Linked DNA regions of Homo sapiens: region 2 is linked to region 1. The links come from fine-mapping of genetic effects on gene expression. A gene starts in region 1. The other region holds a variant in brackets. All regions are shown on one strand. Distances are between the middles of the regions.

Region 1 (9,298 bases):
ACAAACCAATTATATTATTCCATAGAAGAGTACCCCCAACCCCAATATGTCAAAGTACACTGGCCTGGGGTATTTAATGGTTGAGTAATCTTCCTCAATAATATTCATTTTGCTTTCCACCAGTAAGATCGTGTCATCTCGAATGTCTAGAAGAATCTACACCCTGGGTTTTGAGAATAAGTTCAAATATGTATTGACAAGTTCAAGAAGCAAAGGCCATTTTCTGCTTTTTCACTGAAATGTATAGGTTGCAAATTATAACGACTCCTGATCTCATTCACATTTACTCAAACCGAATGCTTTAAAAATCCAACTAAGCTACTTTGGAAAGGGTGATTCATAAACTCTGCAGCATCTCTCAAAACTCCTTCGTGACAGGCAGCTGTCATGGAATGTGGCCAGAGCCTGAGACAAGATTATCAAATCAGCTGTGATATTCTGTGAGAGATGGAGCTACTTAGGGCCGCATAGATTCGGAATCCAGCCAACTATGGAATTCCAAGACCCTCGCTCCCTCGCTTTCCGAAGTCAAATCTAACATGGATTTGGCCCCAACAGTGGGCAAGGTCGGGGCATGAGGTCAGGAAAGGAGAAACATCGGTTTTCGATCTAATAATGGCTGGGCTGGAGCTTGTTCCCTGTGTCCAAAGGGCGTGCGTACTAGCACAAGCGTTGAGAAAGGTCTGGACCCGATGTCTGCAGGAAGTGTCAGGACCTCCCTGTTCTGGGGACCTTCCCAGCCCACACCAGGTCCGTGCTCTCTAGATTCCCCCAACCTCGCTCCACAACCCGGAAGGAGCTCAGGCCGGACTTGGCGTGAGGGTCCCTGCGGGGCTGGGTCACCTACCCGTCCGCGATCACCCCACAGGGGCTGTTAGTAATCTCCCTGCTTCCTAGGCCGTTGAGAAGCACTCAGGTCACCCACTCTCGGTGACCAGAGCGGTCAGTCTTTCCCCGCCATGAAATGTGAGTTCGGGTGGCAGCCGCCGCGCCCCTGCAGTGTCCCCTGCACATCTCCGGTCTCGGTCTCGCCTTTCTCAGCTCCGCGCCGCCTTTTCCTGGGCGCCGCAGGACTCATAGAAGTGAGGCGGGGCCACAGATTTAAGTTTATTCCCCGCAACTGTCGGGGCGGTCCCGGAGCTGGTGAGGACGCGCTACGGTGGGTGCAGAAAGGAGATCCCTGGACTCTGTAGAACCTGGGCCCGCGGTGTGGACCGATGGTGGATTCTCCGCGACAACAGCCCTGGAGGGAGAGAGTGGGCCGGGGGAGGGGCCACGGGGCCCCTGAGGCCTGCGGGGCTGGCCGCACTGGCCCCGGGCCTGGCGGGGTGGTGGAGTCCGAAGCGGCGAGGCGAGGACCCCGGGGCCCGCTCCCCCCAGTCGCCCTCCCGGGATGTGGCCCCGCTGCAGTAGCACTACGGTGCTGGGCTGTTTGTCTGGCAGCTTCTACTGAGCAGCTAATAGTATAACAACCCGGCTTTGATAAATCTGAACTAATTACCCCTCTTAATTAAAGTCTTTAGCAGTTGTTTCATTGTTTTGGCAAGAAAACAGGAGAGACGTGCAGTTAGAAACACCAGAGCCCGAGCTCACAGCGGAGCCGCTGATTAACACTTGAAGCATTTCAAGGACCTGGCACCCGCCACAGTTTGGTTTTCATCCATGTTTCCTCCTTGAATGGAAGTATATTCGTCTATAAACATACATACACATGTAAAAACACGGAGGCTCCGTTTGCCAGCTGTGTACAAGTCAGTATGTGCCGTCAGGATGCAAACAATAGATACCTGTCTATCTATGATTGTAATGCGTTTGAGGAGATGTACATTGCATACAGCTACTGGATACGTTGTTCCCATTTAACTGTGCACTACGAACGTATCAGGTGGTCCAAGCCAAATTTATGTTTCTATTAGAAAACTCCATGTCTTCTGCTTCTGAACTTTACCAGATTTCATAACTTTACCCAAAGGTGTAACCATTTAGAAGAGACTATTTGCACTTGATAGATTTTCAGACCAAAACATTAAGTATTACTAATCCAGGGTTTTAGATTTTAAAAAGGCGGAGGGATGAGGGGGTCAGAGTCAGGGATCTTTAGCTGAATAGTATGAACAGAGCCCTAAAGTTTGTTGATTAAATAAGCATGTTCCAAGTATTTATTTCCAACAGTCAATGAATCAATTTTCACGTGCAATAATCAAAACCAAAATTCAAAATCATCCATAATGAACCACCCTTATCTAATGTGTATGGGTGTGTGCTCACGAATGTGGAATGTACCCCTATGGGCGCACACATCTATGCGTGTATATATGACATACACACAGTGTTTTGTTACTTCAGGGAAAGAGGAAATGATCAACATCCAGCAGACATCTTGAGACCGGAGAATCAACACAATGGAAATATATACAATAATAAAATTAAAATGATGCAGCATTCCCGGGTAGAATAATACAGATCTCAATAAATATAGCAGAAATTTGTTTAAACAAAACAAAACAAAATAAACACCATCTCTCCACCCAAGATGAAAAGTCTTTCCAAATTAAAAAAAAAGAAAAAGAAAAACAGAAAACAAGCAAAACCCTCCAAATTTTTCATAATTGTTAGTGCCTATATAGAATATAATACACAAAACCATTTAGCAGGTGCATGCAAGAGGCGAAAGGCCAGGGGATGCAGAGGCTTCTGGTCGGCCCTGAAGTGTGGGGCCCAACATGCCCTGGGGTCTGCAGACGAACTCGGACCAGGAGCTCTAGTCTGCCGCTGCCTCAGCGTGGGGGCACGGCTGAGGCTGGGAGGACCCTTAGCCTCGATCACTGGTGGCCCTGGTGGAGCCCGGGCTGCAGGGGCCCCGGGGTTGGCAGCGGCGGCTGCAGAGGAGGCAGCGTCATCGGCGGCTGCTGCGGTAGCGGGGGCGGCGGTTCAGTGCCTGGTTCGCCAGCTGGCGTGCGGGCCAGCCCCAGGCTGCTGTCGTGCAGCTTGCGGACATGCTTCTTGAGGTCAAAGTTCCTGCAGAAACCCTTGCCGCACGTGGGGCAGGTGAAAGGCTTCTTGTCGTTGTGGGTGTGCATGTGGAAGGTGAGGTTGTAAACCTGGTGGAAAGCCTTGTTGCAGATATTGCACTTGAACTGCTTCTCCCCGCTGTGGGTCAACTTGTGGTTTTTGTAATTCCCTGAAACACACAAATGACAGGAATATGGTTCTGAAAAAAAAAATAGCTTAAAAAGGGAGGAGCAGACACGTGGAAGGTAGCGCCAGGCAAGCAGAAGAGCCGCCACAGGTCCCACAACAAGTGCAGGGCTACTATCTGTGCCTGCACTTGTCTCCCCAAGTTTATTTTCAAGCATCGCATCAACAGTGATGCCGTTTCCTTAAATTTTAATACACATTTATCAGTCCAATTACATACAATGAGAGCATGCAGTTAAAACATATACCCTTGTTTTATGAATCATGCTTTTCTCTAATACTAATCAGACTTCGAGTAGGGAGTTAGAATGGCAACAAAAGTGCCACATAACTACACTTTAAACATCGTCTTCTAAAACATCCCGAAAGTATTAAGTATGGCTTTTCATAAGACTAACCATGAGAGACATTTCCTGGTTTGCATACCTTTTTGATGAAACCCTTTGCCACAGAATTCACACACAAACGGTTTGTAGCCCGCGTGTATTCGGGTATGAGTGTTTAAAGTGGAACTTCTATTAAATGCTTTGCCACACTGGTTACATTTGTGAGGTTTTTCCTAAGCAGGAGAAAGGAAAAGCAGAGACATTTAGATATTTTCTAATTATGTGAAGTTCTGCAAGCTCAAAACACAGTAATGCTTAAACACTTTCAAGCAGAACAAAAGCAAACAATACATGGCATTCACCCTGTTTAGCTAGCACTTTTTAAATGAACGTTATCCTAAAGAGTAAGGTTTTATCGGCTGTTTTTCTGCAAACAGTTCGGAAGCAAACTAGGTGAAATTGAGACAGATGAACACACCTGCGTGTGAATGATCTTGTGCCTGCACAGGGTGCTTGCTTGCCTGAAACCTTTTCCGCACACTTTGCAAACGAAGGGTCTGGCTCCTGTGTGCACTGGCATGTGACGGGTTAAGTTATAGTGCGCATTAAAGACCTTAAAATTAAACACACGTAGAACAGGTTAGCCGCACAAGTAACTTTGAAATCAAACCGGGCAGAGAGAGGGTAGGAGGAAGAGAATCTTAACAAAAAGTGTATGCAAATAATTACCCCCAAAATACTAAAAAGGGAGGAAGGAAAGGAGGAGCGAGGGAGGGAAGGAAGGAAGGAAGGAAGGAAGGAAGGAAGGAAGGAAGGAAGGAAGGAAGGAAGGAAGGAAGGAGGGAGGGAAGGAAGGAGGGAAGGAGGGAGGGAGGGAGGGAAGGAAGGAAGGAAGGAAGGGAGGGAAGGAAAGGATCTCCGTTTTGCATTGTACTTGCCTTTCCACACACTTCGCAAGTGAAAACTTTGGGCTTGGCATTAGGAGAGCCTCGGCTGAAATCCGAGGTTTTGAACGCGATTTTTTCCGACAGAAGCTGGGCGCTTTCTTTCATGTAATGCTGCAGCTGAGCCTGGGACAGGTCTTTGAAAGCTACTCCAGAAGGGTATTTCTCCACCGCCGGGACCACCAGTTTATTCCTTTCGGCTAAATACGTTTTTGGCTGCGGGTGCAAAGGGGAACTGAGGAAGTAGGAGGCCACCGGGTGGATGTTCACGCCGGCTGCCGGGTGGCATGGGCCGTCACCTCGGTTCAGGTAGCACAAGGCGCCCATGGCGTGGAATGAAGAGTGGTTGACCACACGCGGCCTTACCAGCTTGTACTGCTGCAGCGGCAGCGCGTCGCGGGCCAGGTCGCCCTTGAGACTCAGTGCGCAGTTGAGCAGGTCGCTGCAGCTGAATGCGGGAGCCGAGGGCACCGCCGCGGGCGCCGCCGGGGCCTCCAGACTGGCCTTCCGCGGCTCGGAGCCCGTCACTCCTGCCTTGGGGCTCGTGTCGTAGGCCACAGGCACGAAGGGGATCATGCAGGGGATCGACGAGTTGAGATGCAGAGAGTGCTTGGGTTCCCCCTTGGGTAAGGCTCCCTGCAGGAAGTGGGGGACTGGCAGGGCCTTGGGCTCTGGGGTGCGCGCCATGATTCGTTCAATGGAGAAAGCCAAGGGTTTGGACGTGCTCATCATGTTGCCCCGAGCTGGAGCAGTCGCTAACATTTTGGTAGTCGCGTTGTGGCAGCTACTGTCCATGTCTGAGTCGCCAGCGTCCGTCAGCCGGGGCTGGGTTGCGCCGTCCGTTGCCTTGTTCCCTGCTTGTCACAGACCTGCGGAGAGGGGGACGGGCACCATCACCACCAGTAGCCTCCTCCTCCTCCTCCTCCCCAGCATCACCAGCCGAACCTGCCTGCCCAGCCCAATGGACTCCTGCCAGCCCATCGCAGAGTTCTTGGCGCACCAATGACTCGGGGACAATCACTACTTATTTCTATCAATAGAAAGTGTTGTGTCAATAACGCAGCCAAGATCTCGCCAATCGTTAACTTCCAAGAGGAGAAGGTAAACTAGATAATTGCTCAATTCGCTTCCAACAGTCAACAGGAAAACTTTTTTTTTTTTCATCTGCAGTCAGTAACTACTTTTCATTGGTGAGTGAGGTTCCCCGCCCAGAAAAGGCGGGGGCGCTTTCACCCGCTTGGCGCGCCCTCCCCTCTGCGCACACACTCTGCCGCGCACACTTCACTACCCTCCGCACCCCCCCATCCCCACCCCCCTTTTGCTTCCTCTGCCTTTCTAATTCTCAATCTGCTTAACCAGGCTTTAGAGGCCAAGCAAATCTGAGATCAATTTTCTCGTTTAGCTCTAAGTGACATCATCTAAAATCATTGTGCAAGGGCTAAATAAGGAAACGGAGTCTAATTCAGGGGCAAACGCCAGGCTATATTTATCAAACGCCAAGCTCCAGAAAGCCTCGGCTAGGAAGCCTCGGCAGTGAAATCCGAGGTTTCGCTGCTTGGTTCCACTGGGCCTGGGTGGGCCGGGCTGGGCCGGGCTGGGCCGGGTCAGATCTGTGCCACCTCCGCAGACCTATTTCTTCCTCCAGGGCTCGGGGTTGCCCGCTCCCGGAATCCCGGAGTCTCCGCGGCCCGAACCGAGTCTGGACCATTTAGAAGACGCCGGCAGGTAACTGGCCTCCCCAAACGCCCCGAAAATTAAAAGCCTTAGGAGGCTTGTTCTGTGTTTGTGGTTTTGTAAAGGCAATGCCCGCGGCAATAGGCCTGGGAAAGTCGCACTTTCATCCACAAAGTTGAGGAGTTGCAAGGAATAATTGGGTGTCACACCACAAGCAACCTTGACTCGATCGGACCCCACCCAGGATACACACAGACGCGCGCGCGCGCACGCTTCCGAGTTTCCATTGAGAGTCTGGAAAGAGCATTTCTTTCTTAAGTACCTGCGCTCAGCTAGAGCTCTCCCGGAGCATTTTAAATACTGAATGCCGAGCGGAGAAGGGAAACAGAGTGTATTAATCCCCACTCCGGTTGCCGGTGTCTGCAAGCCTCCTCTAAGCAGCGCAGGCGGCAGCCTGGATGTCTGTGCGCATCAAGGAGACTTGCCGGCGCCAGAGTTGTGTCCACAGGTGCACTTGTGCCTCCCAAAGAGCGCGCGTAGAGACCATTTCCCCTGCAACGCCCCCCAGCCGAACACCCGCCGGGTGTGGCACCTCGGCCGAAACTCCTGGGGCGGCGCGGTGGAGCGTGTGGAGGTTTCCGGGAAGACGCCTACGGCTGCGGCTCCGACTGTGCGGGCTCCCGCCGCCCAGGCAAGAGCGTCCAGGAGCGCGCTGGAAGCTGCGGCGCGCACCTTCCCCGGCGCAGTCTCTTGCCAGCCGGCGATCACGCAGAGCTGAACCCCGCAGCTAGGCGCGCAGGAAGGGCTGCACAGAGTTTGAAGACACGGCAGCTGTAAGCTGGCGTGAGGAGGCCAAAGGAGCGCGCAGAGCTGCAAGCAAAGGGCGGTGGGGCCTGGACCCTGAAGTGAGTGGCCGACCGCAGCAGCTCAAGGTGCCATCTGCCTGGTGAGTTAACCCCACGTGGCTGTGAGACAGGTGGTGGCGGGTGTCAGGTATTGGGCCAAGTGTAGTGGGGGCGTCCTTCTGCTAGAGCTCTGAAAAGGGTTGGCCCCGGAAGGCTGGATAACGGCGGACTAGAAACCCTGGCATTATTAAGTCCCTGAGCAATTTCACTCAAAGATGCGAAACTGGACCTTAAACGAAGGAAATTGACGTCAAAGTATTCCCTCCTCTCTACCCCATTCTCAACACATGCCAGGCAAGCTACCCGGGTCCCTCCGCCCCACTCTAACTTTCCGCGAAAATCAGTTCCGCCTCTGCCCCAAGAGCCAAGAGGGGTGGAAAGGAAGAGAGCTTGGGCTGGGAACGCGCCTGATGTCTAACAGAAAGGCAGTGGCAGCTGGGTGAGTGGTGGGAAAGCTCACAGGCTGAAGAAATGGGGGAGGGGGAGTGAGTCTTATTGGAAGTTGAGGACAGCCAAGGGGCAAGATGGGGGGAGAGGTCTGGCTGAATACGACGGGCTTCAGCAGCTAGGCCTGGGAGTGCCTCGTTTCAGGCCTCGAGGTGGCTTCAGGCTGGGACAACTGATGCAGCAGAGAAGGGCAGAGCGCCCGGGGGGAGAAAGCAAAGAGGCGCTACACTCCAAGGCGGCCCTTTGGAACCGTCCTTGGCCCGGGTGCACCTACTTTGGATTCGCCCAGACTGCAAATTTTTCTTTCCTTTTGCTGGGGCCACGGGACAGAGCACCTGGGCAGAGCAAGCGGAGAGGCGCCACATCCCCGAGAGGCGCTTCGTAGTTGTCCTTGGACCGGGCGCAGACACTCAGTATTGGTCAGCGCTGGAAATTTTCTTTCCTTTTGCTGTTGGGGCCGCAGAACCAGTCTCCTCCTTTCCCCTGCTCAGACAAAGGGCACGGGAAGGGCTTTGCTGGGGCAAAGGGGGGTGGGGGGTTCTCTGTCCCACGACAGATGGGTCGCGGTTAAGACTTTAATTGCTGACTTTTGGGCCGGATCAGATTCCTTTTCCTACCTGCCACTTCCCAGCAGCGAAAAATCCCCCTCCTGCTGCACTCCTCCGCCACCGGGCTAGGTTGAAAGGAAAAAGCCAAGAAGCGCGAAGCAGCCCGGCTCTGGAAGGCTTTGGAGAGTCCAGCTGACTTGTACACAATTCGCGGCCTCTGGAGCCTTACCTGCCTTCTTGACTGAATGCCACCAGTTCGTTTTACGCTTGTGGTGTGTCCCTCACTCTCCCCTTCCTCTCCTCCCCCTCCCCTCTCCTTAACTGCAAAAGAGCCTTTCTTTGACCTCTGTAAATTTCTCCTTTGGTGTATACCAAACTAAAAAGGAAAAAATATTGGCTAAGAGGTATGCATGCTTTGTATAGTTTATATTTCAACAGTTTGCTTTTCACTAGTCTTTTCAGGATTTGCCCTTTTGGCAAGTGTTTGAAAATGTCATTTGAGTTAACACAAATATGGCAAAGCATCAATTATGCTCTTCCTTTAAGATGGCCTTGAGTTTACTAAAGACTGAAAAGGTGCTTTACAACTCCAGGCCTTGATATCCAACATTTGTTAATTTTTTCAAAACCTAACCAAAAACACATGTTAATTAGTAATACTATCTCTATTAAATAAGAATTGTCACAAAACACAAAATATATTTAGAAAGGGCTTCTATCTTACCGTCCAATCTGTCTAGTACTTTATTTCCAAATATATTTGAAAATAACAAAAAAGGCAATAAAAACAGAGTATATTCAGCAAATTCAGAAGCTTTCAAAACGTTTCAATGCAAGTATTTTTTAGTTATTAAAACAAATGCAAGGGAGCCTTGTTTGTTTTGTTAATGGCAAAATAGAAACTCTTACAGTTTCTTTGGATTTTCTTTGAGAATCCTATAATCCTATTTTTTTGCTGAGAGCTGATGATTAAGTGTGCCTCCCCTTTCCATCCATGGAAAGGCAGTATTTATAACCTCAAATCCTGATGGAAGGCGAGTTTCAGTGTATGATTTATCCTTTATGAAATATCCTGAGGAAACCACAGCAGTTCATGATATAAAGAGGCCAGATAACAAACTCTGTGTTAAGATCTATTTAAAAAATAAGAAAAAGTCCTGCTTTTCTAAAGTAATTTAAAATTCTCTTTTTCTAAGGAATCTGATTTTGACTTCAATACTTTCTAAGCTGTGTTCTTGCTATTACTAAAAAATATT
Region 2 (9,298 bases), 65 kb before region 1:
AAACTATAATAAGAAATGGACAGCTTTCCAACTTTGACCCGAGAGAATGGCTCCTGCAAAGAAGGGTGATGAGAAGAAAAAGGGCCATTCTGCCATCAACGAGGTGGTGACCCGAGAATACACCATCAATATTCACAAGTGCATCCATGGAGTGGGCTTAAGAAGCGTGCCCCTCGGGAACTCAAAGAGATTCTGCAATTTGCCATGAAGGAGATGGGAACTCCAGATGTGCACATTGATACCAGGTGCAACAAAGAGGTCTGGGCCAAAGGAATAAGGTATGACCCACACGGTATCTGTGTGCGGTTGTCCAGAAAACGTAATGAGGATGAAGATTCACCAAATAAGCTCTATATTTTGGTTACCTACATACCTGTTACCACTTTCAAAAATCTAAAGACAGTCGATGTGGATGAGAACTAATCGCTGATCATCAAATACATCAAATAAAGTTATAAAATTGCAAAAAAAAAAAGAGGAAATGGACAATCACCATTAAAGGGAGAGATGTCAACACAGCTCTCTATTATTGAGAGGCCAATGGATAGAAAAGGTTTGAACAATGAAATAGGCTATACATATACAGAACCCTCCACCTAAAACAGAGAATGCAAATTCTTCTCTAGCACATAGGAAATAAGTAAAAAAAAAAAAAAAAAAAAAAAGGCCACAAGCAAGGTTTTTTACTTTTAGGTCAAAAAACTTTAAAAATTGCTATCAGACTATATTTGCTTATGACAATGCAATTATGTTATAAATTAATAACAAAAAAGTTACATCTGACAAAGGTCTGATATCCAGAATCTACAAAAAACTTAAAAAAATGAAAAAGAAGCAACCGCATTAAAAAATGGGCCAAAGACACGAACAGACACATCTCAAAAGAAGACATACAAGAAGCTAACAAACATGAAAAAAAAGTTCCACATCACTAATCATCAGAGAAATACAAAACAAAACCACAGTGAGACACCACCTCATACCAGTCAGGATGGATATTATTAAAAAGGTCAAAAAACAACACATGTTGGTGAGACTGTAGAGAAAAGGGACTGCTTACACACTGTTGGTGGGAGTGGAAAGTACTTCAGTCAGTGTGGAAAACAGTTTGAAGATTTCTCAAAGAACCTAAAACAGAACCACCATTTAACTCAGAAATCCCATTACTGGGTATATATCCAAAAGAAAATAAATCATTCTACCAAAAGACACATGCACTCACACCTTCATTGCAACATTATTCACAATATCAAAGACATGGAATCAACCTAGGTGCCCACCAACAGTGGATTAGATACAGAAAATGTGGTGCATATATAACAAGAAATACGAAGGAGTCATAAAAAGAATGAAATCATGCCCTTTGCCTCAACATGGATGCAGCTGCAGGCCTGATATGGTTAGGCTTTCTGTCCCCACTCAAATCTCATCTTGAATTGTGATCCCCATAATCCAAGGGAGAGACCAAGTGGAGGTAATTGAATCATGGGGGCAGTTTCCCCATGCTGTTCTCATGATAGTAAGTGAGTTCTCACAAGATCTGATGGTTTTATAAGGGGCTCTTCCCTCTTTGCTCAGCATTTCTCTTTCCTACCACCTTGTAAAAAAGGTGCCTTGGTTCCTCTTCACCTTCCACCATGATTTTAAGTTTCCTGAGGCCTCCTCAGCCATGCAGAACTGTGAGTCAATTAAACTTCTTTCCTTTATAAATTACCCAGTGTCAGGCAGTTCTTTATAGCAATGTGAAAACGAACTAATACAAGCGAATTCAAAAAGGAACAGAAAACCCAGCAAATACTGTATGTTCTCACTTATAAGTAGGAGCTAAACATTGGGTACTCATGGACATAAAAATGGCAACAATAGAAACTGGGGACTACTAGATGGGGGAGGGAGGAAGGGAGGCAAGGGTTGAAAAACTAAATGTTGAGTATTAGAATCAGAACCTGGGTGACAGGATAATTTGTATACCAAATCCCAGCATCATGTAATATACCCATGTACATGTTACTACTGAATCTAAAATAAAAGTTGAGCCAGGCACTTTGACTCACACCTGTAATCCCAGCACTTTGGGAGGGCAAGGCAGGAAGATTGCTTGAACCCAGGAATTGAAGACCAGCCTGGGCAACGTGGTGAAACCCTGTCTCTATTAAATATATACATACATACATACATAAAAACATAAATAAATAAAATAAACTAAAAACTAGAAAAGAAACTTTTAAAAAAGTTGAAAAAGATTATAAAAGTAAATACAATCTCAAATCATTTAAACCACAATTCTAAGTGACTTTTGAGATTGAATATTTTGTTCACTGAATCTACGCATATACATAACTAAACAAACTGAAATTCTATCATTTCAGCATACCTATTTTGATAAATCAAGATTTAACTATATATAAAATATATAGGAAACTACCAAAAGATATTGAAAATAAGAATGTAATTTTTTTTTTTTTTTGAGACAGAGTCTTGCTCTGTCACCCAGGCTGGAGGGCAGTAGCACGATCTCGGCTCACGGCAAGCTCTGCCTCCCAGGTTCACACCATCCTCCTGCCTCAGCCTCCCGAGTAGCTGGGACTGCAGGCGCCCGCCACCACGCCTGGCTAGTTTTTTGTATTTTTAGTAGAGATGGGGTTTCACCATGTAACTAACATTTTTAAGATACAATAGGGTGTCCAAACTTTTGGCTTCCCTGGGCCACATTAGAAGAAGAAGAATTGTCTTGGGCTGTGCATAAAATACACTAACACTAATGACAGCTGATGAGCTAAAAAGCAAATTGCAAAAATAAAAATAAAAATAAAAATCTCATAATATTATAAGAAAGTTTACGAATTTGTGTTGGGCTGCATGCAAAGCCATCCTGGACCATATGTGGCCTGTGGACTGTGGCTTAGTCAAGCTGATATTGGATAAGGAAAGAGCTAACAGAAAGTGTGAATTGCTCATTTTCTTATTTATTTCTGCAGGGAATAGAACCATTTAAATTTGCTAAATTAAAAAATAGAAGATTAACTGTAATATTATATAAACTGCTATAAAGTTAAGTAGAAGTTTTAAAACAGACAAAACATTGTTGAACTTATAAAAAGAAAAACCACACACATAAAAAAAAAAAAAATCCAAGGCTGAGTGCAGTGTCTCATGCCCATAATCCCAGCACTTTGAGAGGCTGAAGCAGGAGGATCACTTGAGCCCAGGAGTTCAAGACCAACCTGGGAAACATAGCAAGACCTTGTTTCTACCAAAAAAAAAAAAAAAAATTAAATAGCTGGGCATGGTGACATACACTTGTAGTCTCAGCCACTTGGGAGGCTGAAGTGGGAGGATCACTTGAGCCTAGAAGTTCAAGGCTGCCATGAGCTATGATCACACCACTGCACTCCAGCCTGGGTGACAGAGCAAGACCCTGTCACCAAGAAATAAAGCCTAATACATTTATTGTATCGACAAATATAAATGGCATATATTCATCTACTAAAAGAAAAACTCTCATATTGGGTACAATTTTTAAATTGTATATTGTGTATATGAGACATCTAAAACAATGTGATTCACAAAAGATTAAAAAACAAGAATATATAAATACAGTCACGCAAAGCTAACTGAAACAAGAGTTAAAATATAATCTTTTTTAATATATAAATATTAATTGGAGACCACATTTGCTGAGTGCTGTGTGCCAGGAATGTGCTTTACATAAATGATACGTTAAATCCTAAAAACAGCCCTCTGAAGCGTATTGGCCACATTTTACAGATGAAGGAACTGAAGCACAGAGAGATTTAAAAACGTATTCAAAGTTGTATAACTGGTCATCAGAGGAGACAGAATTCCAACCCAAATTTTCTAGCTCTAGATCCTGTCTAGCAGCAATATTCTGTCTTTACAGTTAAAAAAATAAAAGAACTATTTAAAATGTATAATTTTAGTTGCACAGAACTTTTTTTAGAAAGGATACACTAGAAATTATCAAAATAGTAGTTACCTTTACAGAGAATGACTAGGAATGAAAAGAGGATTTTAGGGCGGAGGAGCCAAGATGGCCGAATAGTAACAGCTCCCGTCTACAGCTCCCAGCGTGAGCGACGCAGAAGACGGGTGATTTCTGCATTTCCATCTGAGGTACCGGGTTCATCTCACTAGGGAGTGCCAGACAGTGGGCACAGGTCAGTGGGTGCGTGCACCGTGCGCGAGCCGAAGCAGGGCGAGGCATTGACACACTTGGGAAGCACAAGGGGTCAGGGAGTTCCCTTTCTGAGTCAAAGAAAGGGGTGACGGACGGCACCTGGAAAATCGGGTCACTCCCACCTGAATACTGCGCTTTTCCGACGGGCTTAAAAAACGGTGCACCACGAGATTATATCCTGCACCTGGCTCAGAAGGTCCTACGCCCATGGAGTCTCGCTGATTGCTAGCACAGCAGTCTGAGATCAAACTGCAAGGCGGCAGCGAGGCTGGGGGAGGAGCGCCCGCCATTGCCCAGCCTTGATTAGGTAAACAAAGCAGCCAGGAAGCTACAACTGGGTGGAGCCCACCACAGCTCAAGGAGGCCTGCCTGCCTCTGTAGGCTCCACCTCTGGGGGCAGGGCACAGACAAACAAAAAGACAGCAGTAACCTCTGCAGACTTAGGTGTCCCTGTCTGACAGCTTTGAAGAGAGCAGTGGTTCTCCCAGCACGCAGCTGGAGATCTGAGAACCGGCAGACTGCCTCCTCAAGTGGGTCCCTGACCCCTGACCCCCGAGCAGCCTAACTGGGAGGCACCCCCCAGCAAGGGCACACTGACACCTCACATGGCAGGGTATTCCAACAGACCTGCAGCTGAGGGTCCTCTCTGTTAGAAGGAAAACTAACAAACAGAAAGGACATCCACACCAAAAACCCATCTGTACATCACCATCATCAAAGACCAAAAGTAGATAAAACCCCAAAGGTGGGGAAAAAACAGAACAGAAAAACTGGAAACTCTAAAACGCAGAGTGCTTCTCCTCCTCCAAAGGAACGCAGTTCCTCACCAGCAACGGAACAAAGCTGGATGGAGAATGACTTTGACGAGCTGAGAGAAGAAGGCTTCAGACGATCAAATTACTCTGAGCTACGGGAGGACATTCAAACCAAAGGCAAAGAAGTTGAAAACTTTGAAAAAATTTTAGAAGAATGTATAACTAGAATAACCAATACAGAGAAGTGCTTAAAGGAGCTGATGGAGCTGAAAACCAAGGCTCGAGAACTACGTGAAGAATGCAGAAGCCTCAGGAGCCGATGCGATCAACTGGAAGAAAGGGTATCAGCAATGGAAGATGAAAGGAATGAAATGAAGTGAGAAGGGAA[G/T]TTTAGAGAAAAAAGAATAAAAAGAAATGAGCAAAGCCTCCAAGAAATATGGGACTATGTGAAAAGACCAAATCTACGTCTGATTGGTGTCCCTGAAAGTGATGGGGAGAATGGAACCAAGTTGGAAAACACTCTGCAGGATATTATCCAGGAGAACTTCCCCAATCTAGCAAGGCAGGCCAACGTTCAGATTCAGGAAATACAGAGAACGCCACAAAGATACTCCTCAACAAGAGCAACTCCAAGACACATAATTGTCAGATTCACCAAAGTTGAAATGAAGGAAAAAATGTTAAGGGCAGCCAGAGAGAAAGGTTGGGTTACCCTCAAAGGGAAGCCCATCAGACTAACAGCTGGTCTCTCGGCAGAAACCCTACAAGCCAGAAGAGAGTGGGGGCCAATATTCAACATTCTTAAAGAAAAGAATTTTCAACCCAGAATTTCACATCCAGCCAAACTAAGCTTCATAAGTGAAGGAGAAATAAAATCCTTTACAGACAAGCAAATGCTGAGAGATTTTGTCACCACCAGGCCTGCCTTACAAGAGCTCCTGAAGGAAGCACTAAACATGGAAAGGAACAAACAGTACCAGCCGCTGCAAAATCATGCCAAAATGTAAAGACCGTCAACACTAGGAAGAAACTGCATCAACTAACGAGCAAAATCACCAGCTAACATCATAATGACAGGATCAAATTCACACATAACAATATTAACTTTAAATGTCAATGGACTAAATGCTCCAATTAAAAGACACAGACTGGCAAGTTGGATAAAGAGTCAAGACCCATCAGTGTGCTGTATTCAGGAAACCCATCTCACGTGCAGAGACACACATAGGCTCAAAATAAAAGGATGGAGGAAGATCTACCAAGCCAATGGAAAACAAAAAAAGGCAGGGGTTGCAATCCTAGTCTCTGATAAAACAGACTTTAAACCAACAAAGATCAAAAGAGACAAAGAAGGCCATTACATAATGGTAAAGGGATCAATTCAACAAGAAGAGCTAACTATCCTAAATATATATGCACCCAATACAGGAGCACCAAGATTCATAAAGCAAGTCCTGAGTGACCTACAAAGAGACTTAGACTCCCACACATTAATAATGGGAGACTTTAACACCCCACTGTCAACATTAGACAGATCAATGAGACAGAAAGTCAACAAGGATACCCAGGTATTGAACTCAGCTCTGCACCAAGCGGACCTGATAGACATCTACAGAACTCTCCACCCCAAATCAACAGAATATACTTTTTTTTCAGCTCCACACCACCCCTATTCCAAAATTGACCACATACTGGGAAGTAAACCTCTCCTCAGCAAATGTAAAAGAACAGAAATTATAACAAACTATCTCTCAGACCACAGTGCAATCAAACTACAACTCAGGATTAAGAATCTCACTCAGAACCGCTCAACTACATGGAAACTGAACAACCTGCTCCTGAATGACTACTGGGTACATAACGAAATGAAGGCAGAAATAAAGATGTTCTTTGAAACCAACGAGAACAAAGACACAACATACCAGAATCTCTGGGACGCATTCAAAGCAGTGTGTAGAGGGAAATTTATAGCACTAAATGCCCACAAGAGAAAGCAGGAAAGATCCAAAATTGACACCCTGACATCACAATTAAAAGAACTAGAAAAGCAAGAGCAAACACATTCAAAAGCTAGCAGAAGGCAAGAAATAACTAAAATCAGAGCAGAACTGAAGGAAATAGAGACACAAAAAAGCCTTCAAAAAATTAATGAATCCAGGAGCTGGTTTTTTGAAAGGATCAACAAAATTGATAGACCACTAGCAAGACTACTAAAGAAAAAAAGAGAGAAGAAGCAAATAGACACAATAAAAAATGATAAAGGGGATATCACCACCGATCCCACAGAAATACAAACTACCATCAGAGAATACTACAAACACCTCTACGCAAATAAACTAGAAAATCTAGAAGAAATGGATAAATTCCTCGACACATACACTCTCCCAAGACTAAACCAGGAAGAAGTTGAATCTCTGAATAGACCAATAACAGGAGCTGAAATTGTGGCAATAATCAATAGCTTACCAACCAAAAAGAGTCCAGGACCAGATGGATTCACAGCCGAATTCTACCCGAGGTACAAGGAGGAACTGGTACCATTCCTTCTGAAACTATTCCAATCAATAGAAAAAGAGGGAATCCTCCCTAACTCATTTTATGAGGCCAGCATCGTTCTTATACCAAAGCCAGGCAGAGACACAACCAAAAAAGAGAATTTTAGACCAATATCCTTGATGAACATTGATGCAAAAATCCTCAATAAAATACTGGCAAACCAAATCCAGCAGCACATCAAAAAGCTTATCCACCATGATCAAGTGGGCTTCATCCCTGGGATGCAAGGCTGATTCAATATACGCAAATCAATAAATGTAATCCAGCATATAACCAGAGCCAAAGACAAAAACCACATGATTATCTCAATAGATGCAGAAAAAGCCTTTGACAAAATTCAACAACCCTTCATGCTAAAAACTCTCAATAAATTAGGTATTGATGGGATGTACTTCAAAATAATAAGAGCTATCTATGACAAACCCACAGCCAATATCATACTGAATGGGCAAAAACTGGAAGCATTCCCTTTGAAAACTGGCACAAGACAGGGATGCCCTCTCTCACCACTCCTATTCAACATAGTGTTGGAAGTTCTGGCCAGGGCAATTAGGCAGGAGAAGGAAATAAAGGGTATTCAATTAGGAAAAGAGGAAGTCAAATTGTCCCTGTTTGCAGATGACATGATTGTATATCTAGAAAACCCCATTCTCTTAGCCCAAAATCTCCTTAAGCTGATAAGCAACTTCAGCAAAGTCTCAGGATACAAAATCAATGTACAAAAATCACAAGCATTCTTATACAGCAACAACAGACAAACAGAGAGTCAAATCATGAGTGATCTCCCATTCACAATTGCTTCAAAGAGAATAAAATACCTAGGAATCCAACTTACAAGGGATGTGAAGGACCTCTTCAAGGAGAACTACAAACCACTGCTGAAGGAAATAAAAGAGGATACAAACAAATGGAAGAACATTCCATGCTCATGGGTAGGAAGAATCAATATCGTGAAAATGGCCATACTGCCCAAGGTAATTTACAGATTCAATGCCATCCCCATCAAGCTACCAATGACTTTCTTCACAGAATTGGAAAAAACTACTTTAAAGTTCATACGGAACCAAAAAAGAGCCCGCATCGCCAAGTCAATCCTAAGCCAAAAGAACAAAGCTGGAGGCATCACACTACCTGACTTCAAACTATACTACAAGGCTACAGTAACCAAAACAGCATGGTACTGGTACCAAAATAGAGATATAGATCAATGGAACAGAACAGAGCCCTCAGAAATAATGCCGCATATCTACAACTATCTGATCTTTGACAAACCTGAGAAAAACAAGCAATGGGGAAAGGATTCCCTATTTAATAAATGGTGCTGGGAAAACTGGCTAGCCATAGGCAGAAAGCTGAAACTGGATCCCTTCCTTACACCTTATACAAAAATCAATTCAAGATGGATTAAAGACTTAAACGTTAGACCTAAAACCATAAAAACCCTAGAAGAAAACCTAGGCATTACCATTCAGGACATAGGCATGGGCAAGGACTTCATGTCTAAAACACCAAAAGCAATGGCAACAAAAGCCAAAATTGACAAATGGGATCTAATTAAACTAAAGAGCTTCTGCACAGCAAAAGAAACTACCATCAGAGTGAACAGGCAACCTACAAAATGGGAGAAAATTTTCGCAACCTACTCATCTGACAGACGGCTAATATCCAGAATCTACAATGAACTCAAACAAATTTACAAGAAAAAAACAAACAACCCCATCAAAAAGTGGGTGAAGGACATGAACAGACACTTCTCAAAAGAGGACATTTATGCAGCCAAAAAACACAT

Which allele goes with the higher level. Alleles are on the strand shown, and positions count from the first base shown. SD is a standard deviation of normalised expression in the study named.
For the expression in cerebral cortex of the gene that starts at base 4,484 in region 1, G is the high allele of the variant in region 2 and T is the other (moderate effect, 0.58 SD a copy in GTEx).

The links. PIP is the estimated chance that this variant, and not a neighbour inherited with it, causes the effect.
Region 2: its variant is the best candidate, but not a certain one, in a credible set for the expression of FEZF1-AS1 in cerebral cortex (GTEx, PIP 0.66).

Annotation. Positions count from the first base shown.
Region 1 is chr7:122,299,175-122,308,472 of GRCh38, forward strand. FEZF1-AS1 (FEZF1 antisense RNA 1) reads left to right here and starts at 4,484. Exons shown (of 7, transcript NR_036484.1): 1 at 4,484-5,094; 2 at 5,399-5,569; 3 at 6,114-7,088; 4 at 7,342-7,486; 5 at 8,129-8,314. It overlaps FEZF1 (FEZ family zinc finger 1), which reads right to left and starts at 5,576. Exons shown (of 4, transcript NM_001024613.4): 1 at 4,463-5,576; 2 at 4,003-4,137; 3 at 3,625-3,757; 4 at 2,129-3,181. The coding sequence starts at 5,263. The coding sequence ends at 2,823.
Region 2 is chr7:122,234,485-122,243,782 of GRCh38, forward strand. It overlaps the pseudogene RPL31P37. Among named protein-coding and RNA genes, the nearest start is that of FEZF1-AS1, 65 kb to the right of the region's middle. The variant G/T (reference allele first, on the strand shown) is at 5,342.